Linked DNA regions of Homo sapiens: regions 1 and 2 are each linked to region 3. The links come from fine-mapping of genetic effects on gene expression. A gene starts in region 3. Each other region holds a variant in brackets. All regions are shown on one strand. Distances are between the middles of the regions.

Region 1 (10,676 bases), 27 kb before region 3:
AGGCATGAGCCACCATGCCCAGCCGCATCCTCCCTCTGGAGGAACCTGAATCCCGGACAGGGCATCACAGGATTCAGGGTTCACGGACACTTCCCTCCACCCGTGTCTTCGCCTCTCCCACTTCTTTAGATCTCTCTCACCTTCAAACATCAGTGGTCCTCTCTCCCTAGCACAGTTTCTCCTTGACTCTGCTGCCACCCTGCCACTATTTCTTTTCCCTTCCCTTCCCTGGGTGTTTCCTTGAGTGCACAGTTGCCATCCTCTCCCCGCACGTTCTCTCTGAATGGTCTGCTTACACAGGCTGGCCCTGGCACTGCCTATGTCTGTCTCTGCAGTTCAGTGAGCTGCTCCCCAATCGTGCTGGCTTAAGCTATAAACCCACTTGTCAGATGACGACACCTGCTTTCCCCATAAAACTAGTGATTTAAAATGAGCACAGATTTTTATAAAGTACCCAAAACTTAACCAGTCACTCCTCTAAGATCACTCAGGGACAATCTGAGTTCATAAAAATGCTAATGGGGCAAATACTCTTGAACCAACAGAAATTCTATACATCATGATGAGAAAACTATACAAGAAAAGAACATAATACATATGTCTAAGCAACATCCAGGAATTTAAAAGCACTTCATAAATGACCATTAAAAAGTTACCTTTATAAAAACTACGGAAAGCAACTGCTTGGTTTTAACAAATAGTCTGGCTCCAGTGCGTTAACTAAAGAAATACTAAAAGAATCGCCTCTGGAATCGAACAATCTGGACTGGAATCTCCATGAATGCTGGGTTAACCAATCCTGCCCTCAGTGATTCCATCTATAAAATGAGGAAAAGAACACACAGGGTGGTTACGTGGACTGCACGGGTGAACGCACGGAAGGCACTAACTCTAGCTGCAGGTCAGAGCCCCCGGCACTTTACCCGTGCCTGGATCCACCCACAGAGGTTCTGACTCAATGTGGCTGAGGATGGTCTGGGATTTCAAAACTTCCCAGGTGATTATAATCTGCACAAGGTCAAGAGCCACTGGACTGACATGTGGCAAAGCTTTCAAAAACAATGCCAGTTGTTCGTGTAATTATTAATAACATGGCCTAGAAAAATAAGAATCCGGGATTCTGGATCTAAACAAGATGAGGCACATCAAAGAAATCAGGCTAAGGCAAGAGAGCAGTATTCTAACAATCAGGAACCCTAAGGGGAAATGAGTTTGAGAGCACAGACAAACAAACATGTTTTCTTGTTCCTGTTCTTCTCAGCCAGTAAAAATCAGGAAAAATGTAGTTCCCAGGAATAAAGTGAGGACTCTGCATATCAAATGGTGTTCATAAAGGTCACTCATCTCTACACAGTAGGAGCTGTGAAGGGCTGACGTGAATTCCCAGGGCACGAAGTTCTAACCAGCTGCTAATACAATAACCGCCTAATGAGGAATCTTTAACAAAAGTTGCATACTCAAGTCTAAAAATGTATTTTTCATGCAACTTGGCATTGGAGACACTAGCTCTGGCTCTGATTACTTGTTACTTTGTGATATCTTGAGATTTTCAGATCCTGAGGAGGTGTTCTATCTAGAAGGTTCTAGAAGACCTTTAAAACAAGCATCACCACCCCTAATGAGTGGAAACCCTTGGTAAATAACATCCAGTAAGGAGAAAGCCTGGCAAGGAGAGGCCTGGAGGCAAATAAGGAGCAAGTGAGTCTAGACTGAATATTCAGAATATTCTCCTATCACCATTCTCCTATCACCAAGTGATGGATTTACCCGTAAGGACAAATGAGTCAGCTCTCTTTTAAGATGAGAAGTGATCAAATTTTGTTGCTTCAAAAGTCTGTTCTGAATCACTCGTCTTAAAAGCAGCTGTAGCTGGGCACGGTGGCTCATGCCTGTAATCCCAGCACTTTCGGAGGCCGAGGCAGGTGGATCACCTGAGGCCAGAAGTTCGAGACCAGCCTGGCCAACATGGTAAAACCTCATCTCTACTAAAAATACAAAAATTAGCCAGGCATGGTGGTGCACACCTGTAGTCCAAGCTACTCAGGAGGCTGAGGCACAAGAATCACTTAAACCCGGGAGGTGGAGGCTGCAGTGAACTGAAATCAGGCCACTGCATTTCGGCCTAGACAACAGAGCAAGATTCTGTCTCAAAAACAAAAACAAAAAAATGTAAATAATAAATAAGTGCAGCTTCATCTCTACTTTTTAAGCACAATAATAATAGGAAAAAGGAATGATAAAAATAAGCAATTATAAAAAGATACATTTTTAAGAAGGGTCATCCCTCCTATATAAAACACTGCCAGAAAAATAGTACACAAAAAAGCGTAAATCTACAGTGAAAAAACAAAATATGAAAGAAAACAGGTGAAATAAAACAAGGGAAGCTTCCTAAAGAAAGAATACATACTACAAGTAAATATGCTGAATTCAAAAGGGAAAGCTATGTGATCCATATTCCCAAGCAGAGACTCGACAAGAATTTAATTGGAAATGTTTAAGTAATAAAATGTTAAGGCCTTTTCTTGCCATGTTTATAAATTTTCTCATCTATCTTCCATACAATACAAATACATACACAATAAAATAAACTAAACAAGCACTTATTTCATATCTACTGTGATTCATCCATTCTAAGACCTGTTCTTTCACATTTTAAGATATCTGAAATCGGGGTGAATCTAGTTATTGGTACGTACGGTTTAAATGGCAGTATTTTTTCTTCATGATCTTTCTCAGAGGTACAGAAAATAAATGGTGCATCACACTGTTGATGGTATCTTAGTTTCAATGAAATATTATGTTTAGTAATCAACAGTCATATTTCTATGTGCAAAATGCTAGCAAGGCGCTAGGCTAGTAAGCTATTTAAGGAGAAAGGATATACGCACAAGAAGTTAGATTAGTAATAAAAATTGGCTTCTAACAACAGCAAATAAATATACGATGGTAGACAGAAATTGCTAGAAGAATATGAAGCAGAGCGCATTCGTGCAATTTAATTCTATTGGTAAAAATAAGAGCTAAACTTTGCTCTGGACATGGCCAGAATTTAGAAAATTGGGGAACCTGGGCAGGCACTCCCTTTGGGGAAAAGAGCATGAGTAAGATACTAAAGAAAGAACAGAAGGCCTCACGGGGCATGGCTAAGTCGTACTGTGGGCCATTCCTGCAGGGACAGGATGGAGATTGGGTGGGTACTGGGGTTAGACTACAGAAGACCTGAACTGCCAAACTAAGCAGTGTGGATTTTATCTAACAAGCTGGCATCCTTAACAGCCACCCCCTGCCAAAGCGCAGGCTCTCTACGATAGCCTGGGAGAACTCCTCAGGCTCCTGTTCTCTGGCCAAAAATGGTCTGGTTCCTCCTCGTCTGTCAGGTAATTCCTCTGCCTCCGTGGCACCCCCCTCCCCCCACAACAATGCCATAAGCAGTTTTCCACTTGGATCACCCCTCCGGATGTTGTCTCAGACCACCCTCCAGGCTCACGGAAGCCTCTGCCGCTCGTGGAGAGGTACCTGGCCCGTGCAGAGTGACTGAAGCTTCCAGAGAAGGGTGCTTGTGCAGGAACTGCAGGAAGATTCCCGTCCTGCAGAAGAAACTGAATGATCTCAGATCAGGTGGGGAGGACCAAAGAGAAGGCAGGGAAAGAAAAGCAGCAGATGTGAGGGGCATCTGGAAGGGGGACCCAGGGGCTGAGGATAAGGGGGACAGGGAGACAGTAACATCCTGGGGCAAGCAAGCCACACCGCCCAAGAGGCTGCTGGCACCACAGACAGCAGCAGGCCTCGGATTAAGTCCCCGCACACACAGCCCTCCTCTGAAGCACCCTCTACTGGCTCTGCCATGTCTTCATTCAAACACCGATCAGTGTCCTACTATGTGCCAGAGACACCACTAGATTTCGAGGAAACTGAGGTGAGTCAAACACTGTCCCTGACCCCCACTGTCCACAGTCTGGTATTAAAAACAGAAGTGAAAAATAAATCACTGTAATTCACAATAGCCAAAAGGCAGAAGCAACTCACCAACTGTCCACTGGCTGATGAATGAATAAACAAACGGTGGCACATACACACAATGGAATATCACTCAGCCTCAAAAAGGAAGGAAATTCTGACACACACTACAACACAGGTGAAGCTTGAGGTCATTATGCAAAGGCACAAAAAGAAATACTAGATGATTCCATTTACAGGAGGTACATAGAGGAGTCAAATTCATAGAGACAGAAAGTAGAAGGGTGGATGCCAGGGGATAGGGGAGAGGGGAAATGAGGAGTTGCTTGATGGGTACAGAGGTTCTATTTTGCAGGATGAAAAGTGTCGTGGAGATGGATGGTGGTGA[C/T]GATGGCACAGCAGGGTGAAAGTATATCATGGCATGAAAATGTTTACAATATAATGAAAACTGCAAGATGCAAATTGTATACATAGCATGATCCCATTTTATGAAAAAAGTAAAGTCTCATATACATATTTTGAAACACTAGGAAGATGCATATCAAACTGTTTATATAATAGTTATTGTTAGGTGGCAGAAATAAAGATGATTATTTTCTACTAAATATACTTCTGTACTTTCCAAAGTACCTACAAATGAGGACCATTTATAATCAGAGACAAACTTTTTTTATCCCAACAGAGAGGGAATCAACATGCAGGGAACTGAGGCACTGACGGTTGTTTTTTGGGGGGTGGGGTTTTGAGACGGAGTCTTGCTTCTGTCACCCAGGCTGGAGTGCAGTGGTGCGATCTTGGCTCACTGCAACCTCCACCTCCTGAGTTGAGGCAACTCTCCTGCCTCAGCTTCCCAAGTAGGTGGGACTACAGGTGTGCACCACCAAGCTCAGCTAATTTTTGTATTTTTAGTAGAGACGGGTTTTCACTATGTTGGCCAGGCTGGTCTTGAACTCCCGACCTCAAGCGACACGCCCACCTCAGCCTCCCAAAGTCAGCACTGGGTTTAAAATGACAGCTAATCACCCACAGGGATTTAGTTCATGGAACAGGTCTGGAATGAAGATGTAGTTCCAGGTGATCTTCAAGAAAGGAGAGAAGGTGTGAAAAGGCATTCTGAGTTAGGATTCAGGAGGAGAAAGCAGCTAAGGGGAAGAGAAAGATAAAAAGAAGCCCAGCTTTATGAAGCAGCTTACAAATCCAGGGAGAAGCCACGGTACTGAATTCACCAAGTGATATGGTTCGGCTGTGTCCCACCCAAATCTCATCTTGAATTGTAGCTCCCATAATTCCCATGTGTTGTGGGAGGGATCTGGTGGAAGATAATTGAATCGTGGGGGTGGTTTCCTCCATACTATTCTGGTGGTAGTGAATAAGTCTCACGAGATCTGATGGTTTTATAAGGGGAAACCCCTTTCGCTTGGCTCTCATTCTCTCTTGTCTGCCACCATGTAAGACGTGCCTCTCACCTTCTGCCATGATTGTGATGCCTCCTCAGCCACATGGAACTGTGAGTCCATTAAACCTCTTTTTCTTTATAAATTACCCAATCTCAGGTATGTCTTTATCAGCACTGTGAAAACGGACTAATACACCAAGTTGCTATTAATTCTGATCTATTCAATCATTCATATGATCATTTACCTATTTAATTGTTAACTCATAGAAGCATTCCTTCCTACACACCCACCCACTTAGTGATTTAACAAATATTTATTGAGGGCCTACTCTCTGCCAGGCCCAGTGCCAGGTGGAGGGGCTAAGGCACAATCTCTGTCCTCAAAAAACTAGTTAGGAACAATCATAACACAGTGGTCAGAGTTATAATAGGGACGCACAGGGGCAATGAGCATCCAAATCATTCTGGGATTTCTGGAAGTCTTCCTGAGGGAAGTACAGAATCAAGCAAATGAGGAAGAGAAGTGCATTCCACGCAGAAAGAACAGCATGTGCAAAGGCACAGGGGCATAAAACAGTTCAACGCAGTTCCCCATATGGGGAATGACCATACTGCCAGAGCAATACGGTTAACAGGAGAGGCAGGCAATGAGGTAGGAGAGGGGAGAGGAGGAGGCTGTTGCAAATCAAGAAAAACAAGGATTGAACAAACCAGAGACACTGCCATGTGAGGCACCACATGGTCCTAATCAAGTGAATGTAGTGAACACACTGGCAAGGAACTGAGCCGAGGGCCCAGCAATAAGGGAACAAACAGAAACCCAAAGTCAAATCCTAAATCTTGGCCCACTATCTTCTTATTCTTCTTCCCCTCCCCCTCCCCCTCCCCCTCCTTCTCCTTCTTCTTCTTCTTCTTCTTCCTCTTCTTCTTTTTGAGATGAAGTCTCGCTGTTTGGCCCAGGCTGGAGCACAGCGGCATGGTCTCAGCTCACTGCAACCTCTGCCTCCCAGGTTCAAGCAATTCTCTTGCCTCAGCCTCCAGAGTAGATGGGACTACAGGTTCGCATCATGACACCCAGCTAATTCTTGTATTTTTAGTAGAGACAGGGTTTCACCATGTTAGCAAGGCTTGTCTCAAACTCCTGACCGCAGCTGATCCGCCCACCTCAGCCTCCCAAAGTGCTGAGATTACAGACATGAGACACTGCACCCAGTCAACTTTCCTAAAAACATGTACCTATGGACCCAACTGGTATCCCAGGGTCACTTGCTGCCACCTCATCTCTACTGTCCCTTATTCTCTCTTTGTCCACTTCTTCTACTCAGCCTTCCTTCCTCTCCAAGCAACCGTGCATTTCGCTATGGGTGCATACTCATGAGTCAGTGTGTCTGTATTCATGCATGCATTTCCTTGTATGTGCATCTCTGCATATATTGCTATTAATCTATATGCTTGTACTCATGCATCTACGTTTTGAATTTTCCTTTGACAACGTCTGTGAATACATATTTGTCTTTCCTCGTCTTTGCACGACTGTTATCCTCTGGATACATGCACGTTAATGATTATGCGTGTGCCTGTGTGTGTATGCTGAGCATAAGTGGGCATGTGACCCACATGCGCGGGCCACAAGAGGGGCCATCTGCGGGTTCAGCCTGCCTGGCGCCCACGCCCACCCCAGTCTTGCCTTGGGGAACACTCCTTCCACCATGGCACCGGATCTAGGTGCCACCATCACCCACGATGCTCATTCTCTCCTGACCAAGGGACGGGCAACTATCCCAAGCCCCAGGCTCTCTCCCCAAAATCTGAATCTCAAACAGAATGATTAAAAGGCTGAAATTCATCCTGTTGGCTATGCCCTAAAGGAACAGTCTTCAACTCCTACAGCCTGGATCCCCAAGCTGCAGGCCCTGAGGCATCTTGTCAGGGCCACAGAAGTGGAAACTGACATATATATGAATATTTATATAACTTCCCAGCTGTAAAGTTCTATGACTCAGGAGCTTAACAGTCTCACTTACATCCCATGATGACAGCCTTGCCTGGGACTGTCATTTAAATCTCTTTCTCTCCCCCTCGTTTAGCTTATTACTATCCCACTGTCTCACATCAGCTACTCTTCTTCCCTGGTATAGAGAGGACTGGTTTCTTCCTAGCAACCCCGAACAGTAGACGGCAATACTTCCTCAGGGTCACTCAGCAACAATCCAAGATGATCCAAACAAACCAGTATGATTCAGAAGTTGTTCCTGTCCAGGTACGTACCAGTTACACAATTCGAGATATACAGATTTGTTTTTGCACTATAGCCCAAAGGTTTTTTTTTTGTTTTGTTTAGTTTGTTTCGTTTTTGAGATAGAGTGTTGCTCTGTCACCCAGGCTGGAGTGCAGTGGCACAATCTCGGCTCACTGCAACATCCGCCTCCCAGATTCAAGTGATTCTCCTGCCTCAGCCCCCCGAGTAGCTGGGATTGCAGGCGCCCACCACCACACCTGGTTGATTTTTATATTTTTAATAGAGACGGGGTTTCACCATGTTGGCCAAGCTGGTCTCCAACTCCTGACTTCAAGTAATCCACCTGCCTCGGCCTCCCAAAGTGCTGAGACAAAAGTTCTCATACATCCTTTTTTAAACAAATGACCTTAATATAACTCCAAAAATCTGCTATACATTAATTCATTCCCTCTTGGCAATCAACTAAACATCAAGACTTAAATAGCACCACAAATCACGACCATACACAACTAGGGAAAGTCCCATTTATCTACATATTCATGCATCCATCTCTCACGCAGTACATTGTGCTGGACATTGTGGAATAAAAAGATGACGCTAACGGGGCTCCCATCATTAGGAAAAGGGAGTGGGGGCTTATGGCAGAGAGGCCCAACCTGCATAGGACAAAGGGTCTTTATGTTTATTTCCCATAAAAAGCCTGCAATTAACCTAACGCGCATTTTACGAATGGAGAAAAATGTCATCTTTGTTATGATCATTTTTAACCCTGACTGTTGGTTATCAATTATTTCAGCATGAAATATGTCAGCGAAGTTTGGTCATAATTAAAATTTATTTAAATTTACATTAAGTTAGAAGCATTACTTTTTCTGGATTAGAAGATCCATTCATAAATCCCTTTATAAATTTATGTAGATTTAACTGTCAAAGAGGTGTAACTTGATACATTCCTAAGAGCTGAACTACTGGGCCAAAAGGTGTAAACCTAACTTCATTTGTGAGGATCAGAGAGCAACTGTGCCTCTTAATCAGACCCGACCCCTCTTTAAACAGTGCTCTCAAGGACTAACAATTTTCAATTCCAAATGTCACACCCATGTGGGATCAGGTCAGTTCCCAGGACTGGAGAGCAAAAGAGAGACTACTGGTCCCTTAACACAAACAAGCTCTGAAATGTGTCGAAAAATTACTCCAAGATAGGGTGAATCAAACAGGAATTAGAGTGACAGCCCAACTCCAATTGGTCAAAGGCTGACCGGGCCACTGAGGTCCAGGAGAAACAGAATTTGTGCCCTGGAGCTCTGTGGCAGAGGAGATAGTGTAAATACTGTGTCAAAAAATATACATGAGGCTGGGCATGGTGGCTTACACCTGTCATCCCAGCACTTTGGGAGGCTGAGGCAGGAGGATCACTTGAGGCCAGGAGTTCGAGACCAGCCTGGGCAACATAGTGAGACCTCATCTCTACAAAAATAAATTTTATTTTATTGATTTATTGATTTATTTATTTATTTATTTATTTTGAGATGGTGTCTCACTCTATCATCCTGGCTGGAGTGCAGTGGCACTATCTCGGCTCACTGCAACCTCTGCCCCCCGGTTCAAGCGATTCTCCTGCCTCAGCCTCCCAAGTAGCTGGGATTACAGGCACCCGCCACTATGCCTGGCTAATTTTTTGTACTTTTAGTAGAGACAGGGTTTCACCATGTTGGCCAGGCTGGTCTCGAACTCCTAACCTCAGGTGATCCACCTGCCTCGGCCTCCAAAAATGCTGGGATTACAGGCATGAGCCACTGTGACCAGCCACAAAAATAAAAAAATTTTAAATACATGCTACAGTGTTTCCAACACCAGCAAAGGGCTGAACCTCCCAGACACCCCAGGCTGGAGCCCAGGCTGCCACGGCAGGCACCTCACAGAAGCGTATCTGCGGCCAGAGAGTAAAACTGCTCTCTCCATATTGCACGTGCTTTTCTCAAGAAACGCTTTCTAATGCCCTGTAGGACTAGAAACACAAGCGGTGGTGTCTTCCGGATTTTCCAAAGAGATCAAACTATTATGAAGCAAAGTCTCCAGGAACATAAATGATAAGAATGCTGGGAAATTCTAAAAGCACTGCAAACTCCACACAATAAGGGACATGAAAAGAGATGAATGGGACACTAAATGTGTCTTTCCCCCATGCCCTCATAACCTCTCCCTGTGCAGTTCTGACAGAAGGGCCCCTTGCAGGCCATCGGACAGCACAGCCAAGGAGCAGGAGCCATCTGTCCTGCACTTGGATCCGGGTGACGGCCAATGCCCACAACCTCTTGCCCACCAAAGAGTGGGGTCTCCTCTAGGCACACACTGGGAGGTTAAAACCCCATTCTAAGTTGCTCCTGTTGTCCTCGGAGCAGTCTCAAGACTTGAAGTTTGGCACTTGGAAGGCACCCAATTAAAGGTCAAAGTACATAGGAGGGCTCCATGCCAGGAGATCTTGGCGTTCTTCTTTTGAAGTCTATGACGGAAATGCTGCATTTTGAAAGCTACTGGGGGAAGCATTGTGAGACTGAGGCAAACACAGCAGCTGGGCAGAAAATAGATCTATTAGGCTCCTACCGTGGGCTGAGAGAGCTGCTTTGGGATCGGCCCCATGATGCGCTTTCCCTACCCTGCCACGAGGCTATCACCCCCCACAGGGACCACGGGAGGCTGCTGCTGTACACAAAAGGTCCTCACCTCCTCCAGGCCTGGCCCACTCAACAATCCTTTCACAGCTTCCTGCTCTATTCCTTCTTCTGTGATCCACAGATACTATAATTATAAACTACTTTTTTCATGGAACCTGACCTGCTCCTGCCCCATCTCACTTAAGTGATGATGATGCCACTATCAAAAAGAAAAATGCGACCAGGCACAGTGGCTCATGCCTGTAGTCCCAGCACTTTGGGAGGCTGAGGCAGGAGAACTGCTTGATCTCAGGGGTTCAAGGCTGCTGTGAGAGATGATCATGCCATTGCACTCCAGCCTAGGTGACAGATAGAGGCTCTGTCTCTTAAGAAAAAAAAAAAAAAAGAAAGAAAAGGAAAAAGAAAA
Region 2 (10,676 bases), 160 kb before region 3:
ATCAAGGATGAAGACAGCCATTATATAATGATAAAGAGACCAGTTCTCCAAGAAGACATAACAATCCTTAATGTGCATGCAACTAACAACGGAACATCAAAATGTGTGAGGCAAAAACTGATAAAACTGCAAGGAGAAATAGACTAATCCACTATTAGAGCTGCAGACTTCAACACTGCGCTTTCATTAACTGACAGATCCACAGGCAGAAAATCAGTAAGGACATAGTTGGACTGAACAGCACCATCAATCAACTGGATCTAATTGACATTTATGAAACACTTTATCCAGCAACAGCAGAATACCCATGATTCTCAGGCTCACATGGAAAATTCATAAGACAGACCATATTCTAGGCCATAAAACATACGCTAACAAATTTAAAAGAATAAATAATACCATGTTACTCAATCATTATGTTACACCAAATAACAGACACCATTACTCTGAATGTATCTTATTTGCCATGGAAAATGAAACAGAGTTATCTCTTAAAAAGCACAAAATTAAACAATTTGCTGTGAAATAATGTTTCTGCTACCTACTAAAAAAATCCCAAGGCTTATAAATCTAAAGAAATGGTAACATATTCACTGGGAACTATTTTTTTCCAGAACCAAAAAGGTTGCCAATTTTTGCACATCAACAGAGTGACCTGAATCTTGGCCTGTGTCCTATGCTTTCCCTCCTTTGCACAATAGAGAAATACTCTTGTTCTTCTGAAGGCCTGTTTCCCCATCTGAAGGCGAGTTCCCCCACTATGCTCTGAATCCCAATTCCTCTCACTTTCTCCTTTGTCTTTTGCATTATCCATAACCTCCCCCACTCCATGGATCACTCCCATTAGCACATACAATTCTGGGAGCTCTCTCTCTCTTTTTTTTTTTTTTTTTTTGAGATGGAGTCACTCTGTGTCGCCCAGGCTGGACTGCAGTAGCACAATCTCAGCTCACTGCAACCTCCACCTCCTGGATTCAAGTGATTCTCCTGCCTCAGCCTCCCGAGTAGCTGGGATTACAGGCACCCACCATCAAGCCTGACTAATTTTTGTATTTTTAGTAGAGACGGGGTTTTGCCATGTTGGCCAGGCTGGTCTCGAACTCCTGACCTCAGCCAATCTACCCGCCTCGGCCTCCCACGGTGCTGGTATTACAGGCCTGAGCCACTGTGCCTAGCCAGAATTTTTTTTTTTTTTTTTTTTTTTTTGAGATGGAGTCTCGCTCTGTCGCCCAGGCTGGAGAGCAGTGGCACGATCTCAGCTCACTGCAACCTCCGCCTCCCAGGTTCAAGCCATTCTCCTGCCTCAGCCTCCCAAGTAGCTGGGATTACAGGTGCCCTCCACCATGCCCAGTTAATTTTTGTATTTTTAGTAGAGACAGGGTTTCACCATGTTGGTCAGGCTGGTCTCAAACTCCTGACCTCGTGATCTGCCCGCCTTGGCTTCCCAAAGTGTTGGAATTACAGGCGTGAGCCACCACGCCATGCCCCAGATTTTTTTTTTAACCTAGAACTTTAATAGGATTAAATAAAATTTTCTTGATTTTTGGCTCTGTGTTTTAGCCTGTCAATACCATTTTGAATTCTGATTTTGCCATCCATCACAATCTTTCTAAAATTGTGAGACATCTGAAAATTCAGTTAACTCTGAACACAAAGATGTGACAAGTATGCAGATACTTACCCCAGCTTCTGAGGTTCAGGGGCCAGTTACATCAGAAGGTGAAACCTTAATTATCCTGATAGGGATTGAAGTGTGGAGGACTTTGTCACAGGCGAAAGCATACTTTCGGCCTTGCACATGTCTGGGTCAAGCGGAAACTTACCCTTTGCCCTCTGATGGTTCACTGAAAAATCAACGGACAAAATGCAGATTATTAAGGGTAATGGCGCACAAACTGATTAGCATGCACGGGGGAGGAAAATTACTCAGTGATTGCCACACCACACGATGGGTACAAATGGTTCTAGACCCTTCTTCTTAGAGGAAAGGGAGACGGGGAAGCGCGGGCCATTTTGGGGGATAGTAAATGATTTGTAAGGGAATTCAATGGGCTTGAAGAACATACAATGACCTGAGACAAAGTCTGTTGTGCCTGCGGAGCAGACAATGATTTGTGACAAAAGTCTGTCCAGTTGCATTGACAGACTTAGTCTTTCTTCCTGCGATATGAGTTCAGTTAACAAGACCTCAGGGAAGGGACCAGAGGTCACTTTTCTCTTTTTTGTAAGTCCAGATGTTAGGCAGATAAGGGAACCTCAGAGAACAACTTCATCCTGTATTTCGGGAGAGACAGAGGATGGAGAGACAGGAGGCAGCGGGGTCAGAGAGAACTCGAGACCTCTTCTTCAGGTCAGCATGTCAGAGTGCCATATTTTGGGGTATTGTTTCCTGAGCCCCAACACAGAAATATTAGACTGGTGCCAAGTAATTGCAGTTTTTGCCACTAAAAGTAATGATGACACCGCAATTACTTTTGCACCAACCTCATAGTTGGTAAGCTACTTCTGGTTCATTCCTGTCTGATCGGTGGCTGGGGGAGTCACAGCGGGACACCAGCCGTGGCAGGAAATGCCTTATGAGGAGTTGATAGGTTCACCTGGATAGCAGTTAAAGAGAGTCCTGCAGTCAAGGAAAAGACATCGATACAGATGTTTTTCACAAGGGTCCCTAAAAATGCAGCTTGTGAGCTAAGTCTCACCGTTGTCCAGCATTAAAGACAAAGGCTCAAAACCAAGGGTCACTTTCTGGACCCGGCTTGCCTAGTCACGAAGTTCTCATCTCAGCCACAAACCTGGGAAACCTCTGCAAAATTCCATGAACTGTATCAGGAGGTCAGTGGGGCATTGCCTGTCAACTAGAGCACAGGATAGGCACAAAAGGGTGGGACTCCCTAGGATGCTCTAGCTGCTGGGTGCCATTTCCCTCCAGCAGTTAGAAAAATGGCTGCTGGAGAGCCCCAGAATATCTTCTGATCTTTCTTTCCGGATTGCATCTCACACAAATTCTTATCCTTTTATTGCCACCCTCTGCCCTTGTGTACTCTGGAATCCAAACCAATAGCTTACCAGAAGGTCAATTAGAAAGAAAATCATCCCCATCCGTCCCGATCGCCAAACAACATTAAGTTGGCTTAGATTTATTTGTTATTTAAAAATTTTTTTGTTTTTGAGACAGGGTCTCACTCTGTTGCCCAGGCTGGATTACAGTGGCATGATCTCAGCTCACTACAACCTCTGTCTCCCTGGTTTAAGTGATCCTCCCACCTCAGCCTCCTGAGTAGCTCGGACTACAGACGTGCACCACCACACTCAGCTAATTTTTGTATTTTTTGTAGAGATGGGTTTTCGCTACGTTGCCCAGGCTGGTCTCAAACTCCTGGGCCCAAGTGATCTGCCTGCCTCTGCCTCCCAAAGTGCCAGGATTACAGGCATGATCCACGGCACCCAGCCTTTAACTTTTTTTGAGACAGGGTCTTGCTCTGTTGTCCAGGCTGAAGTGCAGTGATGTAATTCTGGCTCATTGCAGCCTCCACTTCCCAGGCTCAAGCAATTCTCAGCCTATCTTAGCCTCCCAAGTAGCTGGGACCACAGATGTGCACCAACACACCTGGCTAATTTTTTATATATTTTTTAGTAGAGATATGGTCTCGCCATGTTGCCCAGGTTGGTCTCGAACTCCTGGGCTCAAGCAATCCACCCGCCTCGGCCTCTCAAAATGCTGGGATTATTTATTTATTTATTTATTTATTTATTTATTTATTTATTTATTATTTTAAAAAGACCAAAATTTACCAAAATTTTGATGCCAGTGTCTCTGGTGGTAGAGTTATACAGGTTTTTATTTCTTTTATTTTTGCTAATTCACATTTTGACCAGGAAAGGAAGAACAAAAAAAGTTAAGTGAATAGGCTTTAAAAAGACATAATT[C/T]GGCTGGGCCCGGTGGCTTGCACCTGTGATCCCAGTACTTTGGGAGGCCGAGGCGGGTGGATCACCTGAGGTCAGGAGTTTGAGACCAGCCTGGCCAACATGGTGAAACTCCATCTCTACTAAAAATACAAAAATTAGCTGGGCATGGTGGTGGGTGCCTGTAGTCCCAGCTACTCAGGAGGCTGAGGCAGGAGAATCACTTGAACCCAGGAGGCAGAGGTTGCAGTGAGCTGAGATCACATCACTGTTCTCCAGCCTAGGTGACAGAGTGAGACTCTGTCTCAAAAAAAAAAAAAAAAAAAAAAGATATAATTAGGCCACATTTAAATTAGTGATGTTCTAATTTAAATTTGGCCTAATTATATCTTTCCAAAATTTTTAAAAAATTTAACTTTACTCCTAATTTGTATATTAAACTTGTCTCACTAGGAACCCAGAAAGAACAATATCTGGGAAAAGTAATACCAAGACCCAAGCACACACTGGTTCTCGGACTTCCAATCTAGGTAGCGATCACTCTTGTCTCTCATTTACAGCTTTGGGAGGATCCAAGGGGAATAGCTACTTCTGGATTCTGCTAAATATAGAACATCCCTGCTGCTCTTCAAAAGCAGCCACAGTGCAGAGCTACTGTTGGAAAAAAAGACCAACACTCATTTGTTCTGAAATGCAGGAACCCTGTTTGACTTTTTTTTTTTTTTTTTTTTTGAGATAGAGTTTTGCTGCTGTTGCCCAGGCTGGAGTGCAATGGCACAATCTCAGCTCACTGCAACATCTGCCTCCTGGGTTCAAGCGATTCTCCTGCCTCAGCCTCCCAAGTAACTGGGATTACAGGTGCCCTCCACCATGCCCAGCTAATTTTTGTATTTTTAGTAGAGACGGGGTTTCACCATGTTGGCCAGGCTGCTCTCAAACTCCTGACCTCAGGTGATCCAACCACCTCAGCCTCTCAAAGTGCTGGGATTAACCACGCCCGGCCCCATTTTACCTTTTAAGCCCTGTTTTTCTCCTAACTTCTTGCACTAACATTTTCTTTGAAACAATCTCAGAATTTTAAAATGCTTAATGAAAGGAACTACTGATCTGGGGTATATTCTAATACTATATCCCAGAATGAAAATCCATATACAGACATACCTCGTTTGATTGTGCTTCACTTCATTGTGATTTACAGATATTGTGTTTTTTACAAATCAAAGATTTGTGGCAACTCTAAGCAAGTTTATTCGTGCTATTTTTCTGTCTTTTTTTTTTTTTTTTTTTTTTTTGAGATAGGGTCTCACTCTGTCAGCTAGGCTGGAGTGCAGTGGTGCAATCTTGACTCACTGCAGCCTTGATCTCCTGGGCTCAAGCAATCCCTCCTTCCTCAGCCACCCCGAGTAGCTGGGACTACAGGCGTGGGTCACCACACCTGGCTAATTTTTTAATATTTTTAGAGACAGGTCCCACTATGTTGCCCAGGCTGGTCTCAATCTTCTGGGATCAAGTGATCCTCCTACCTTGGCCTCCCAAAGTGTTGGGATTATAGGCGTGAGCCACCATGACTAGCTTGGTGCTATTTTTCCAACAGCATCTGCTCACTTCAGGTCTCTGAGTCACATTTTGGTACTTCTTGCAATATTTCAAACTCTTTAATCATCTGTTATGGTGACCCGTGATCTTTGATCTTTGATGTTACTACTGTTTGGGGGCACCATGAACCATGCCCATAGAACACCACGAACTTAAGAACAATAAATGTTGTGTGTGTTCTGACTGCTCCACCAACCACCTGTTCCCTCGCACTCTGCCTCTCCCCAGGCCTCCCTATTCCCTGAGACACAACAGTATTGAAATTAGGCCAATTACTGACCCTGCGATGGCCTCTGAAGTGTTCAAGTGAAAGAAAGAGGTGCACGTCACTCACTTTAAATAAACTAGACGTGATTAAGCCTGGTGAGGAAGCCACGTTGAAAGCTGACACGGTTTAAACCTCTTGTGCCAAACAGCCAAGTTGTGAACGCAAAGGAAAAGTTCTTCTTAAAAGAAATGAAAAGTGCTACCGTAGTGAACACACAAAGGAGAAGAAAGCGAAACAGCCTTATTGCTCATATGGAGAAAGTTTGAGTGGTCTGGATAGAAGATCAGTCTGGCCACAACATTCCCTTCAGCCAAAGTCTAATACAGAGCAAGGTGCTCTCTAATTCTATGAAGGCTGAGAGAGGTGAGGAAGCTGAAGAAAGGTTTGAAGCCAGCAGAGGTTGGTTCATGAGGTTTAAGGGAAGAAGCCATCTCTATAACATAAAAAAGTAAAGCAGCAAGTGCTGACTTAGAAGCTGCAGCAAGTTAACCGTAAGATCTAACTAAGATAACTGACGAAGGTGGCTACAGTAGAGAACAGATTTTCAGGCTGGGCATGGTGCCTCATGCCTGTAATGTCTGCACTTTGGGAGGCTGAGGCGGGTGGATCACCTGAGGTCAGGAGTTCGAGACCAGCCTGGCCAACATGATGAAACCCCGGCTCTACTAAAAATACAAAAAATTAGTCAGGCATGGTGGCGCATGCCTGTAATCCCAGCTACTCAGGAGGCTGAGACAGGGGAATCGCTTGAACCTGGGAGGTGGAGGTTGCAGTGAGCCAAGATTGTCACTGCACTCCAGCCTGGGTGACACAGCGAGACTCCGTGTCAAAAAAAAAAAACAAACAAAAAACCGATTTTCAGTGTAGATAAATAGCCTTCTATTGAAGAAGATGCCATCTAGGACTTTCATAGCAAGAGAGGAGAAGGAGAAGTCAATGCCTGGCTTCAAAGCTTCAAAGGACAGGCTGACTCTCTTGTTAGGGCGAATGCAGCTGGTGAGTTAAAGTTGAAGCCAATGATCATTGAGCATTCTGAAAATCCTATGGCCCTTAAGAATTATGCTAAATCTACTCTGCCTGTGCTCCATACATGGAACAACAAAACCTGGATGACAGCACATCTGTTATAGCATGGTTTAAAGAATATTTTAAGCCTACTGTTGAGACCTGCTGTTTAAGAAAAAAGATCCCTTTCAAACTATTACTGCTCATTGACGGTGCAACTAGTCACCCAAGAGCTCTGATGGAGATGTACAAAGAGATTAATGTTGTTTTCATATGTAACACAATATCCATTCTGCAGCCCATCAATCAAGGAGTAATTTCGACTTTCAAGTCTTATTAAGAAATACATTTCAGGCCAGGCATAGTGGCTCATGCCTGTAATCCCAACACTTTGGGAAGCTGAGGCAGTCGGATTGCTTGAGGTCAGGAGTTCGAGACCAGTCTGGGCAACATGGCAAAACCCTGTTTCTACAAAAAATACAAAAAAAAAAATTAGCTGGGTATGGTTGCACGCTCCTATAGTCCCAGCTACTGGGAAGACTGAGGTGGGAGGATCGCTTGAGCCTGGGAGGTGGAGGTTGCAGTAAGCAGCAATCGTACCACTGCACTCCAGCCTGGGTGACAGAATGAGACCCTGTCTAAAAAAAAAAAAAAAAAAATTCATAAGGCTATAGGCTATAGCTGCCATAGATAGTGACTCCCCTGATGGATCCGGGCAAAGTCAATCGAAACCCTTCTGGAAATGATTCCTCACTCTAGATGCCATTAAGGACATTCATAATTAGCCAGGCGCCATGGTTCACACCTGTAATCCCAGCACTTTGGGAGGACGAGGTGGGCGGATCACCTGAGGTCGGGCATTAGAGACCAGACTGGCCAACATGGAGAAACCCCATCTCTCCTAAAAATACAAAATTAGCCGGGCAGGCGTGGTGGCTCATGCCTGTAATTCCAGTTACTCAGGAGGCTGAGGCAGGAGAATTGCTTGAACCCAGGAGGCAGAGGTTGTAGTGAGCCAAGATCGCGCCACTGCACTCCAGCCTGGGCAACAAGAGTGAAACTCCCTCTCAAAAAAAAAAAAAAAAAAAAAGAACGTTCGTAATTCATGGGAGGAGGTTAAAATATCAACATTTATAGGGCTTTGGAAGAAGTGATTCCAATCCTCACGGATGAGGAGTTCAAGACTTTGGTGGAGGAAGTCACTGCAGATGGAGTGGAAATAGCAAGGGCACTAGCAGTGGAGCCTACAGATGTGACTGAACTGCTGCAGTCTCATGGTCAAACCTAAACAGTTGAGGAGTTGTTTCTTATGGATGAATAAAGACAGTGGTTTTTTGAGATGGAATCTAGGCCTGATGAAGATGCTGTGAACATCAGTGAAATGACAACAGAGGACGTAGACTATCCCATAAGCCTAGTTGATAAAGAAGTGACAGAGTTTGGGAGGATTAACTTCAATTTTGGAGGAAGTTTTACTGTGGGTCAAATGCTATCAAACAGCATTACATGCTGCAGAGACATCTTCCGTCAAAGAAAGTGTCCACGGAAGTGGCAAACTTCATTGTTGTTCTATTTTAAAAGAAATTATCACAGCCACCCAAACCTTCACCAACCACCACCCTGATCAGTCAGCAGCCATCAACATGGAGGCAAGACCCTCCACCAGCAAAAACATTAGGACTCACTGAAGGCTCAAATAATTGTTAACATTTTTTTAACAACAAAGTATTTTTAAATCAGGGCATGTATGCTTTTTTAAAAAAACAGAATGCTGTTGCATACCTAATAGGCTACAGTATAGCTACACATAGCTTCTGTATACAGTGGGAAATCACAAAGTTCGTGACCTGCTTTACTGCAGTGGTCTGGAACCGAATTTCCAGTATCTCCAGGGTATACCTGTACTTAAACTAACGCATATTTTCAAGATACTGATGGAACCAGCTACCAATCAGGCACTCAGAAACAGCTTTATGAGTTTTCCAGATAGGTTCTGTGTCTTACACTTCTGTAATGCTATACTTTGGCACAAATACAACAAATAATAGTTCAGCTACACAAATGTGGTTTACCTAGATTTGTGGCTACAATTTTTCAAGTCTTCAGCAGTAGAGAAATCAAACTCACCCACCCCCATTTATTCCAGGATGTGCAGAAGGGTGTGGCAAGGAAAGTACCGAGTTCTGTAGAGGGAGAAAGTTACTTAATAGGGCACTATCCGATGAGAACTTTTCATTAATAATCTAACTTAGAAACTGAACAAAAGGATCTCTGTTCTTGTTATTCTTTTCTTCTTACCTTAAGCTCTGCTTGGCAGGTGCAGAGAGGAAGAGGACAGAGGGACAAGAAATGCCAATTATGACTCAAATCCCTATTCATTTATTTATTTTTGAGACAGAGTTTCATTCTTGTCACCCAGGCTGAAGTGCAATGGCATGATCTCGGCTCACTGCAACCTCCACCTCCTGGGTTCAAGCGACTCTCCTGCCTCAGCCTCCTGAGTAGCTGGGATTACAGGCGCGTGCCACCAAACCCGGCTAATTTTGTATTTTTTAGTAGAGACGGGTTTCTCCATGTTGGTCAGGCTGGTCTCGAACTCCCGAACTCACGTGATCCGCCTGCCTCGTCCTTCCAAAGTGCTGGGATTACAGGTGTGAGCCACCGCGCCTGGTTATATTCATTTGAACTGGGGGTTCAGGCTCTGAGCGTGGGATCAGCCTGCCCTTTCTTGTAAGTCTTAGCTGTTTCTAGTAACTCCCTGCTCTTCTGTCATTTCAAACCTATTTACATTCAGAGCATATAAAATCTTGTAATGAGTTCTACCAGTTAGTTTCCACTATTTTTGTTGTTTTCCATCTAAAGTTAGATTAAAACATAAAATTATTAAAACTGTTATAGTTATTTCTTCAGTTATGTGTAAAATATTAAATATCTGACCGTTGTGTGTATATTGTCTTTTTTAAAGATTTCTTTTCTGGCCGGGTGCAGTGTGGATCACACCTGTAATCCCAACACTTCGGGAGGCCAATGCGGGTGGATCACCCTGAGGCCAGGAGATCGAGACCAGCCCGCCAACATGGTGAAACACTACCTCTACTAAAAATAGAAAAATTAGCCAGGCGTGGTGGAGTACGCCTATAGTCCCATCTACTCTGGAGGCTGAGGCATGAGAATCGCTTGAAGCTGGGAGGCAAAGGTTACAGTGAGCTGAGATTGCGTCACTGCACTCCAGCCTCAGGGACAGAGCGAGACTCTGTCTCAAAATAAATAAATAAATAAAATAAAATAAATCCCTTTTGAGAACTTATTTTTGGTTTCGGCAAATTTGCTTAGACTTTTACATAATATCCTGTTCTTAGTTCTTTTTAACCTCTTTAAACATCTAACGTATTATTTATCTCTTTCATACTGGCCTATTTTCTTGGATTTTTAGGTTTAAATTCTCCTTTTGGTTGACCCCACCAGCCCTCCTTCTTGAAGGTTTATTTTCTGCCAAGACTTGCAATTGTTAACTGTGGTTTCAAAGCTAGCAGCTCGCCCTGAGAAGTACCAGAGCCCCTGGGTTGTGGATGCACAGGACAGGATTATATGAGCCTCTGCAGAAGGTCTGTGGGCTTTACCTGTGCCAGATTCGTGTTTATATTTTTAAATACTTTTAGATTTAGAAAAAAGATAAAAAGATGCAAAAATGATTTAGAGGGTTTCAGGATACCTTTTACATAGCTTCCTCTAATATTAAAATCTCAATAACCATAATAAAGTTAGCAAAACCAGTACGTTAATCTTTGTACAATACTGTTAACTATAGACTTGATTTGGATTTCACGTTTTCCCACTATATTCTCTTTTGTTGTTGCTGTCATTCCAAGATCCTATCCAGGATTCTGTGTCATTTAGCTGTTAT
Region 3 (10,676 bases):
CTCACATAGGAAGTCCAAAACAGGTCTAAGCCATGCCATTTTCTGACTACCACTGCTTATTCCTTAGAAAGAGAACCAACCACCACAGCAGTGTTCAGCAAAGCTCTCCTACATTCCAAATCTCCTGGTGAAAATACCACACTCAGGACTGGGAGGGCAGCCCAAGCAACTGCAACGCACCCTCTTCCCAGGATCAACAGCACCGCCCAGGCACCCTACACACACCCTAGCTACATCAGGAAGCCACCCTCCACCAAGATCGTTCCTCACAGTCTTCAAGTAGATGGGGTCACCTCCAGCAGGTCATCCATAAGGAATCCTGCCTTTCCTGTCCGGGAATGGTCTGTGCAAGGGTTTGTACTTCCTTCACTGCTCTGTGTTTCCAGCTGGATCCTGGAGCACAGGGGCTGTGCCCTCCACTTCTTAGTTCCTAGTCTATGAGCCTGGCAGCGGCTGAAGCCAATATACAAACCAGTGAAAGGATGAAGTCTCTTTCCATGATGTCAGGTCTAGAATGGAAATATTATTAATTTCATGTCTCCAGGTTGAATATTTGTATTGGGGGTAGAGGGGAAGCAGGAAAGGACTTCCAAAGAAGAGAAGGTTAGGGATGGGCAGTGCAAACAGCTTCACTATTTATTTTAAAGTTACCAGAAGCACTTATATTCTCCACAACCTCTGCAGTACACCCAGATGGCCACATTCATATGGGGAAGCCATCAGGCACAGAAAGGAAGCATGTCATAGAGTCTGAAGCCAAACCAACCTAAACTCAAAGCCTTAGTTTCCTCATCTGTAAAATGGGGATAACTATGCCTAACTCACAACGTGATTGGATCGTGTATATAAAATTCAACATCTGGCACACAAAAAGCACTCAGGAGATGGAAACCATTTATCTGCTGTGTCTTATGACAGATGAATCCACGAGTATCAGATGGGCTCTCTTTGTTGACTAAAGCCAAGAGACCCTTGACAATGATCTCTTCTCCTCTGGACACACAGGGCTGGAACTCGCAGGAGCAGGACTGAGACGGGAGGTCCTAGGTTAGAGTAAGGTGTTTGCACTAGCTGTATACTGCCTAAAAGAGACTCATTCTGTCACCCCAACCCTGGTTCCACCCAGCTATGGGAAATCTCTGCAGAGGCTTCAGGTGTGGATATGTCTATGGGCCAAGAGCGGGGGTGGGAGGCAGGGAAAGTGATGACTGTGACCTTGAGCAAGGCACTTCTCTGCCTTAGTTTCCTCTTTGGTAAGCAGAGTGGACCTGTTCCATGATCCCTGAAGTCCTCCCTGTGCTTCTATTGTACCATCCCCTCTAGGGCACTGGTTATAATTCTCACAGGTCCAAGGGACACCTTCAAATGTGTTCCAATTCCTCCCAGCCACTGAGTAGCCCTTTGGCCCTGCTCCCACGAGAAAGGAGGATTCGGAGCAGCGTTCACGGCTTTCTGGTTTTTGTTCTGTGTGCAGCAGCTCTCCACCCCTAGCTGCTCCTTCCACCTTTCCTTTTCCGCCTCAAAGTGGTCAAGTGCCTGTGCAGGGGCAATCGCTGGCCTGCAGTGTCAGCTCAGAGACGGTTTCCAGACCATCCTGTGTACAGGCTCAGGGTGGACAAATAAACATTTTGGAGAAGCAATAGGAATTAAATCATTTCTTCCACAACAAAACCCTTATGCTTCTTCATAAATCATGCCTCTTCATTCCATACTGATGAACAGTCACTAAATTGCATCTGTTATAAAAACAGCCCTTACTCCTTTCATGCCCAGACACTTAAGAATCAAAATATTTTCACACTCCATTGTACTAATAATGCCTTGCAGAAGTAATACCAATAGCTATTTCCCTGGAAAGATCCGTGGCCAGGGCGCTTTCCAAGAGGTTTTCTTTGAATGTTCTTTGTGTCCTGCTGTACGGGGGGACACGGCCGGCCTGCCCGCATCTGGGGGACGCTGGGCTTGTCCCGGTAATGCAATACTCTTTTAAAGCACACCTCGAATCCACCTCTTCGCCCCGACAATAAAGTATCTCAAAACATTCGATATGCCACATCATACAGCCTTGACAAAAAAGCACGCCGGTGCCTGCATTCTGCAGGAAAAACCAGGCACATTCTGAGATGAAGCCACCAGACCCGCTTCGGGTTCCATGGACAAGAGAACAGCTTTGCAGACCCCTTAGCAAGACCGGCCAGAAGCCGCTCGCTTGTTCGTTTTAATTATTTATTTCCCCCGTGCCTTTATTTGTTGGGCCCCAGAAGAATGGCAAAGCATCTTCCAGAAAGGACGGCGAGGGAGCTGGAGAATAAAAGAGGATGGGCGGGGAAAGCCGGGGTTTTGAAAACAGCAGCGATAAAGGCAGGCGGGGTCGCGGCCGCGTTCCGAGGGTCTCGGCGGAGCTTACCTGGGGCGCACGAGGCCGGCCGGGCCAGCAGCAGCAGCCAGAGGCCAGGAAGCAGCAGCCCCGGGCGGCGGCGGCGGGCGCAGCGGGCGGAAGGCCGTCGGCCGCTCGGCCCCGGGGCCAGCGCGACCCCGGCGCGGGGCTTCCCCTCCATGGCCGCGCCTCGGCGTCGGCGCCGCGCCCCCGGCATTCCCGGCCGGCGCCCCGGCCCGGCCTCGCGGCTCAGCGGCTCTCGGGTCCGGGAGGGGCGGCCGCTGCGGCTGCGGCTGGGACGGGGCGCCGCGCACCGGCGCGGAGGGAGGCCGGAGAGGCGGGGGCGGGCCGGGCCGGAACCGAGGACAGGGGCGCCAGCCGCACGCCCGCCTTGCCGCTCCGCCCCCTTCGGAGCCTCGGAGCCGCTGCCCGGCAACGCGCGGGCCCGGGCGCGGGACGGCGAGCACCCCCTCCCGGCCGGCCGGACGCCTGCCTGCCTGCCTGCCTGCCTGCCTGCGGGGCGGCCGGGGCAGCGTGCGCGGGGCTCGGCGCGGCAGAGGCGGCAAGGGCGGCGAGGCGGCGCGGCCCAGCCCTCCCCCAGGACCCGCCTTCCGGAGGGAGCGCGAGGGGCTCGGGGGGCCTGGGCCGGGCGGTGCCGCCCCGACCCGCACCCAACCCCGGGTCCCGCCGCGCGTTCCCCGGGGCGCCCGGATCAGGGTAGGCCGGCAAGCCGGGGGAGGGGTCCTCTCGCCTCCCTCGCTCCTCCTCTCCCGCCGACTCCTTGCGGGCAGCAGGTGTGTGGGGCGCCGCGCTCTCAGGACAGCCTCGGGGCCGCGGAGGGGACAAAGCCAGACAAAGTCGGGCTCCTGCGCTAGAGCTCAGCGTGCAAGGCAGGGGCGAGCAGAGCGCACGCAGCTCTCCCCCGCCTTCCTGCCTTAAGAAGGTGCGGCCACCTCTGCGGGTCTTCGGGAAGCGACCCTGCGCTCAGGGCCTGGGAGGCCCGCGGGACCCTGCACTTAGCAGGCCTTGAGCAGGCGGCTGCTGAAGCGAATGGGCGTGGAGCTGGGGAGACCCGCAAGGCCAGGCCGTTTTAGGGAAAGTGGCGCTCCTGAGAGGTGGAGAGAATGCCCAGAGAGCGTTTGAGGGTTGGAGTCCGCGGGGGGAATGAGGAACGGGAAGAAGGGAGTTGACATCTGTCAAGTACCTACTGTGTGCCAGGCACGTCACTCTGAAGACGCCCCGTGGCTTCAGGGTCTAGGGAGGAGGAATTGGAAGTTTTGAATCGTTGCATCCCACTGGCATTGTTGCATCAAGCAGATATTAACGGTGTGTGTGGGGGACACTATCTCGTGCAGAAAAACTATGGCAGACAGCGGAAAAGGTGAATCATTACACTGGCAGAGGGATCCTCGCGGCTATTCAGTCGGGTTCCCCTGCCAGGCCCAGCCCTTGAAGGGGCTGCCCAGCCTTGCAGCTCCAACTCTTCTGGACTCCTTGCCCTTGGCGAATAGTTCTTCCTAAGAATAGGACAGGGGCACTCTTCTGTAGGTACACACCTGGTCCTTACAGGTGGGTACTTGAAACCTGGTAGTTTCAAGGAAAATGAGAATAAAGGTTAAAAAAAGCTTTTGTTGATGTTCCTGGTGTTTTTACACGTTATTGTAACCCCCCATCATACAGCCCCTATGTTTATTACAGTAACTGCTCCTGTCTCCCAAAGAGGGTTCTGCGTGCACACCCAGGTAAGTACCTAAGAGAAACTGCCCAGATATGTCTGGTCCCAGGACACCATGGCCATAGATCTGGGACCTCTTATTCACACACTTATCTTTATTCTCTGAACTCTCTATAACAGCACATTTGACCACAAACCACTGCCTTCGTGCAACTCTTGAATGGTCTTGTCCTGTTGTGTTGTTTTATCTTTTATGAATTTATGCTTTGCACACACAGCCCCCACCCCACCTCCAATAAATTAATATGAAATTCAAATATGGTGCTATCCTGCTTAGGATTTCTCATAGCCCCAGTAAGCCCTCAGTAGACAATCGTTGGTTTGAGCCAGAGCATGCATTCCGCCCGTGAAGAGGTTCCATCTTCAGATTTGGCCTCAGCCTCCTGCAAGCTGCCATCTACACTAGACCCGTTGGTGTCAGAGAAAAAAGCCTCCCTCGGCCATGCGCGGTGGCTCACGCCTATAATCCCAGCACTTTGGGAGGCCAAGGCAGGCAGATCACCTGAGGTCAGGAGTTCAAGACCAGCCTGGCCAACATGGCAAACCCCGTCTCTAATAAAAACACAGAAAAATTTACCCAGGCATGGTGGCACGTGCTTGTAATCCCAGCTACTCAGGAGGCTGAGGCAGGAGGATCACTTGAACCCAGGAGGCGGAGGTTACAGTAAACCAAGATCACGCCACTGCACTCCAGCCTGGGTGCCACAGCAAGACTCCATCTCAAAAAAAAAAAAAAAAAAAAAAGGAAAAGAAAAAAGAAAGGAGTCTCCTTCTCCATTCTCTGCAAACTCAAAGACAATAGTGTTTGCCCTGCCATTAAGAGATTGATCAGCTGGAAGTAAAAATAAAAATTGGAACCCTGAGATACTAGAAATGACTCATGGACACCAAAGTGTCCGTGGAAAGTGAGGTCCCTAGGGTCCCTTAGTCTCCCAGCTCTGAAGGCATAAAACAAAATCTTACCTCTGTTAGGATTTAAGGCATTCTGCCTCCATGTCTGGGAAAATGTCTACCAGGCTCTGACAGTCCAGCTGGTAGGTGGTGTTACTCTGCAGACTCAGAGGGGATGAGTGGTCCTTGGAGGTAGGGGAGTGTGTGCAAATGTGTGTGTGTGTGTAAGATTTTAAAATCGATTTTAGAGATCATCTCATCCAATTCTCATAGATAAAGAAACAAGCCAGAGAGGTTAGTTTATTTCCATAAGGCTCAACTCCAACTGGAATTGTCGTCTCCAGTTAAACCACACACCCTCCAGGGGAGGGGGAAAATTAACCTGGGTCCTCGATAGGCTTACAATCTGGTTTGGAGACAGGGAGAGGTAGGCTCAGTACTATCCTTAGACCTAGACGAAGCGGGCCCCACTCTGGCCTTCTCAAACTGCACCTCTCTCCTCAGGACAGAGTCTGTGAAGCCCAGGAAGCACCCTCACCAGCAGCCCATCTTCCCATGCTCAGGTGCCCAGGACCCCAGAATCCTGCCCATTTCACCCCAGGCTCATCTTCAGGCCTATGTGGCCTCTTCCTCAAGTCCATTCTCCCAAGGCTGCACCAAGGGTGTGTCTGGTCCCACGGGGTAGTTGTTTGCTAGGGAGTGGCAAAACTTACGCAGGAGGCATCTCTAAAGATGCGCACATGAAACCTATAGGAATGAAGCAGAGGACCAGGGATGGGAAGAGAAGATCGGGCATGGCCCATATTCACATGGCAACCTGGCTGCGATGTTCTGCTCACAACTGCAGGAAGTCTGCGAATCCTGCCTGTGAACCAGCCTAACCATTCTGAAGACATACGTTTGTTAAGGTAGAACAGACATATTTAATAGTTTGCTTGCTTGGCATGTAACTTGCTGATGAAAATCTGGTCATCGATGTGAAATGGCCAAAATGGCCAAATGTGAAATGGGCTGCGTGAGCCCCTATTTGCACTCTTGACCTGGGCCCCTCAATTCTTAGGGTCTGGATAAGGATGGGACAGAGGGACTGAAGTTAGAGGATGGCTGGAAGTCGGTAGAGGGTAGTGTGAGAGTCCTAGAATAGGAATCAGGACAGCTGAGTTCTGCGTTCTGCTCTGTCACAGAAAAGTTTATGAACTTGAACAAAATGCTTCACCCTACTCTCAAACCTCAAATGTTCTTATCTGATGATGGGCTTCACATGCCTACCTTGCTTAGCTGTGGGTTCGGTTCTTAAGAGAATTATACAAAATAAGATGAATGTTCACAAAGGTCATTCATTAAATTCAATGAATATTTTTTGAGCATGTACCATATGCCAGGCAGTGCAGTGGGCACTGGAGGTATAACGGTGAACAAAACAAAGGCCCTTCCTCGTGGAACTTATGTTCTAGTGAGAGGAGACAGGCAATCAGTAAGTGAGCCTTCGGCTGATGACAACAATTTGCAGAATAACAAAGAGGGAAAAGGAGTGAGGGAAGGGTCAGTGTTACTGTGTTAAATAGAATAGTCAGGGATGATCACCCTACTAAGGTGACATTGGGCCATGGGGATAGCTGGGGAAGAGGGTGTCAGGCAGAGGGAACAACTGTGCAAAGTGGAGAAGTAGCCAGAATAAACATTCAAAAAATATTTACTGAGTCCCTACTAAGTAAGCGCCCCGTAGAGTCATGTGCTAAATGATCAGTAAGATTAATTAGGCCGGGCACAGTGGCTCACGTCTGTAATTCTAGCACTTTGGGAGGCTGAGGCAGGTGGATTGCTTGAGCCCAGGAGTTTGAGACCAGCCTGGGCGACATGGTGAGACTCCCATCTCTATGAAGAAATCCAAAACATTAGCTAGGCATGGTGGCGTGCACCTGTAGTCCCAGCCACCCGAGAGGCTGAGGTGGGAGGATCACCTGAGCCTGAGGAGGTCAAGGCTGCAGTGAGCCGTGATCATGCCAGTGCACTTCAGCCTGGGCAACAGAGCTAGACCCTGCCTCAAAAAAAAAAAAAATAATAATTGTCTACAGTTTTTTCAAGGAGCTTACAGTCTTACGGGAAAAAAAAAAACAAATTTTAAAAACCTACATATTGCAAAGTAGAACATGACAGATGTCCGAAGGAAGTTATAAAAAAAAGTTCAAAGAAGTAGAAATCATATTTGGCACAAGAGATCAAGCAAAGCTTCAGTGTAGTGTTGCATGGAAGCTGGGTGTTAGGGGGCGCCTAAAAAATGAAGAGGACTTGGACAGCTAAAGAGAACAGGACAGGTGTTCCAGGTGGAGGGAACCAACAGTACAAAAATATAAAGGCAGGAATGCATGAAATTTATCTAGCTGATGGCCAGATCAGCTAGAGCAGTGGTTCACAATGCTGACTGCAAATTAAAATCACCTGGACACCACAAACAAAACAAAACAGAACACCCCCAGGCCACACTTCAGACCAGTAAAATCCAAATCTCTGCAGACCAGGCTTGGACAGCCCTGTCTTTTAAAAGCTTCCCAGGATTCCAGTGTGTAAGAACCATTGAGCTAGATGTCTAAGAGTGAGACTTTATAATCACTTACTGAAAGTGGTAAGACATACCAGACCTAGAGAGGCGCAGCAGAGAAGAGAGAAAAGGGAAGCTGATATAGAACAAGGAGAGCTTAAAGATCTGGCTGAAGGGTTTGGACTTAATTTTGTAGGTGACGGTGGATCATTAAAGATTTGTTCAGATATTATTAGAACTAAGCACAAGAAGGATTACTCTATTAACATTATATAAGATGATTTGGAAAGAGAAAAGACTAAAGAGGAGACCAATTAAAACAAGATTTTTTTTTTTTTTTTTTTTTTGAGATGGAGTCTAGCTCTGTCACCAGGCTGGAATGCAGTGACGCAATCTATGCTCACTGCAACCTCTACCTCCCCGGTTCAAGCGATTCTCCTGCCTCAGCCTCCCGAGTAGCTGGGACGGCAGGCGCACATCACCACGCCCAGCTAATTTTTTTGTATTTTTAGTAGAGGCGGGTTTTCACCATGTTGGCCAGGCTGGTCTTCATCTCTTGACCTCGAGATCCGCCTGCCTCGGCCTCCTAAAGTGCTGGGATTACAGGCGTGAGCCACTGCACCTAGCCAGAACAAGATCTTAATGCTGCTGCATGAATATCAAGGATCAAAATATTTTTCACCATCAAACAGACAAAACTTTTAAAATTTTGATTATATTCATTTGTATATTCAAGTGTATAGCAAAATAGGCACTCTCGAATTCTACTGGTGTAGCCATTTTGGAGGATAATTTGACCTTATCTATCAAAATATAAAATCAGCTCACTTCCTTTTCCTTTTTTTTTTTTCAAGTCAAGTTTAATTCAGCTGGCAAATTTAGTCAGGTAATTTAATCAGATAAAATTCACCTTTTTTGGCCAGGCGTGGTGGCTCATGCCTGTAATCCTAGCACTTTGGGAGGCCAGGATGGGTGGATCACGAGGTCAGGAGTTTGAGACCAGCCTGACCAACCTGGCAAAACCCCGTCTCTACTAAAAATACAAAAATTAGCCAGGTGTGGTGGTGCGTGCCTGTAATCCCAACTAGTCGGGAGGCTGAGGCAGGAAAATAGCTTGAACCCGGAAGGCGAAGGTTGCAGTGAGCAGAGATCACATCATTGCACTCCAGCCTGGTGACAGAGCGAGACTCTGTCTCAAAAAATAAATAAATAAATAAATAAAAGTTCGCCTTTTTTTTTTCAGGTTTTAAAAATAATCTTTATTTTTTAAAAGTTAATATGTACAATTCAGGAAACTGAAAAACACAAGAAGCAAAGAACAAAGCTATCCACAATCATAAGCAGTTTGATGAAAATTCACCTTTTAAAAATGTTCAGTGAGTTTCAACAATTCTATGAAATCCTATAACCACCACCACATTCAAGGTAAAGAACATTTACATTGCCCTTAAAGTTCCCTTGTGCCAGCTTGCAGTCTATCCCATACCCTCCCTCTGACAGCCACTGATCTGATTTCTGTTTCTACAGCTTTGCCTTTTCCAGCATTTGACATAAATGGAATTATATAGTATGTAGCACTTTGTGTCTGGTTTCTTTTACTTAGCATAATGTCTGAGATTCATCCAAGTTGTTGCATGCGTCAGTAACTTGTTCCTTTCTATTGCTTAGTAGTATTCCATTGAATGGATATACCACAATTTGTCCAGTCACCAACTGATGAACATTTGGATTGTTTCCAGGTTTTTGGTCATTATTAATAATGCTGCTAAAAACATTTGTTTTCAGGTATTTTGTGTGAACATATGTTTTCATTTCTCTTGGGTAAATACCTAGGAGTAGATCTGCTAAGTCATGTGATAAATGTAAATTTAACTGGGTGGCGTGATAAATGTAAATTTAAACTGCCCAACTGTCTTCCCAGGTGGGATATATTTTAGATCCCCACCAGCAATGTATGAAAGGTCTAGTTGTTCCATACCCTTGTTAGCACTTGATTTTGTTAGCCTTTTTAATTTGAACCATTCTAGCAAGTGTCTAATGATATCTCATTGTGCACTTAATCTGCCTTGTCCTCATGACTAATGATATTGAACACTCTCCATGTGTTTATTTGCAATCAATATGTCTTCTTTGGTGGCATGTCTGTTCAAATCTTACCAAATTGTATATTTATGTATTCTAAATACAAATCTTTTATCCGATGTGTGTTTTGCAAATGTTTTCTCCTAGTCCATAACTTGTCTTTTCATTCTCTTAAGATATTCAAAGAGAAGAGGTTTTTAACTTTGGTGAAATACACTTTTTTATTATTTTTTTCTTTTTTGTTTCATGTTTTTTGTGTCCTAAAAAATATTTGCCTAGCTCGAGGTCACAAATATTTTCTCTCATGTTTCTATCCAGAAACTTAATGTTTTAGCTCTTATGTTTCAGTCTATGATCCATTTGAGTCAACTTTGATGTATTTTGTGAGATTAAAGGGTTGAAGTTAATTTTGTGGGTGTGATGTCTAGTTGTTATAGCACCATTTGTTGCAGACTATCCTTTTGCCATTTAATTGACTTTATATTTTCTCAAAATTAATTGACTAGGTATGTGTGGATTTATTTCTAGACTTTGTATTCTCTTCCATGGAAGACTCACATATTACATGGGCATGGGGGAGTAAGATACTGTATAGTATAATCCCACTAATGAAAAAAAAGTGGGATTGTGATTGTAAACCCACTTTTTAAAAAAGTATGAGTGTAAACAGTCGTTACTACTGGGAAAGGAAATCAAGTTTAGAGAGGAGTTGGGAAGTGAATGTATGAAGGGGAAAATTCACTTTTTGCTCCATATAATCATACACCTGATTACAATAATCTTACCTGTGATTAATACACATCATATCATCTGAACTTTTTTCTTTATTTTTCATTTATTTAACTCCACTCCTGTGACAGATTAGATAGCATTTGAATTTTTGACACCAGCATATACTGCTTTTGTATTTCAAAATTTTTCTAAATAAAAACTTTGTGGGTTTGAATGGAAATTAGAAAATGGATGAGACACATTCTGGATGCTAAATGAGTCGGTGAGATATGAGGAGAGGAAAGAATGAAAGATGATTCAGAGATTTTGGACCATCTGTG

Alleles and levels. Positions count from the first base shown, and alleles are read on the strand shown. Sizes are in standard deviations (SD) of each study's normalised expression. Not every link is listed here.
For the expression in nucleus accumbens of the gene that starts at base 2,714 in region 3, allele T in region 2 goes with a higher level than allele C (small effect, 0.35 SD a copy in GTEx).

Evidence for each region. PIP is the estimated chance that this variant, and not a neighbour inherited with it, causes the effect.
Region 1: its variant is the best candidate, but not a certain one, in a credible set for the expression of KIAA1549 in esophagus mucosa (GTEx, PIP 0.76).
Region 2: its variant is the best candidate, but not a certain one, in a credible set for the expression of KIAA1549 in nucleus accumbens (GTEx, PIP 0.86).

Annotation. Positions count from the first base shown.
Region 1 is chr7:138,951,207-138,961,882 of GRCh38, forward strand. The region is part of intron 1 of KIAA1549; the gene reads right to left. Among named protein-coding and RNA genes, the nearest start is that of KIAA1549, 25 kb to the right of the region's middle. The variant C/T (reference allele first, on the strand shown) is at 4,349.
Region 2 is chr7:138,819,591-138,830,266 of GRCh38, forward strand. No RefSeq gene overlaps it. Among named protein-coding and RNA genes, the nearest start is that of ATP6V0A4, 27 kb to the left of the region's middle. RefSeq lists an enhancer at 2,290-2,844. The variant C/T (reference allele first, on the strand shown) is at 3,928.
Region 3 is chr7:138,978,676-138,989,351 of GRCh38, forward strand. It overlaps KIAA1549, which reads right to left and starts at 2,714. Exons shown (of 20, transcript NM_001164665.2): 1 at 2,408-2,714. The coding sequence starts at 2,594. RefSeq lists silencers at 1,328-1,622, 2,462-2,591, 2,632-3,011, 3,032-3,161 and enhancers at 1,633-2,519, 3,142-3,491.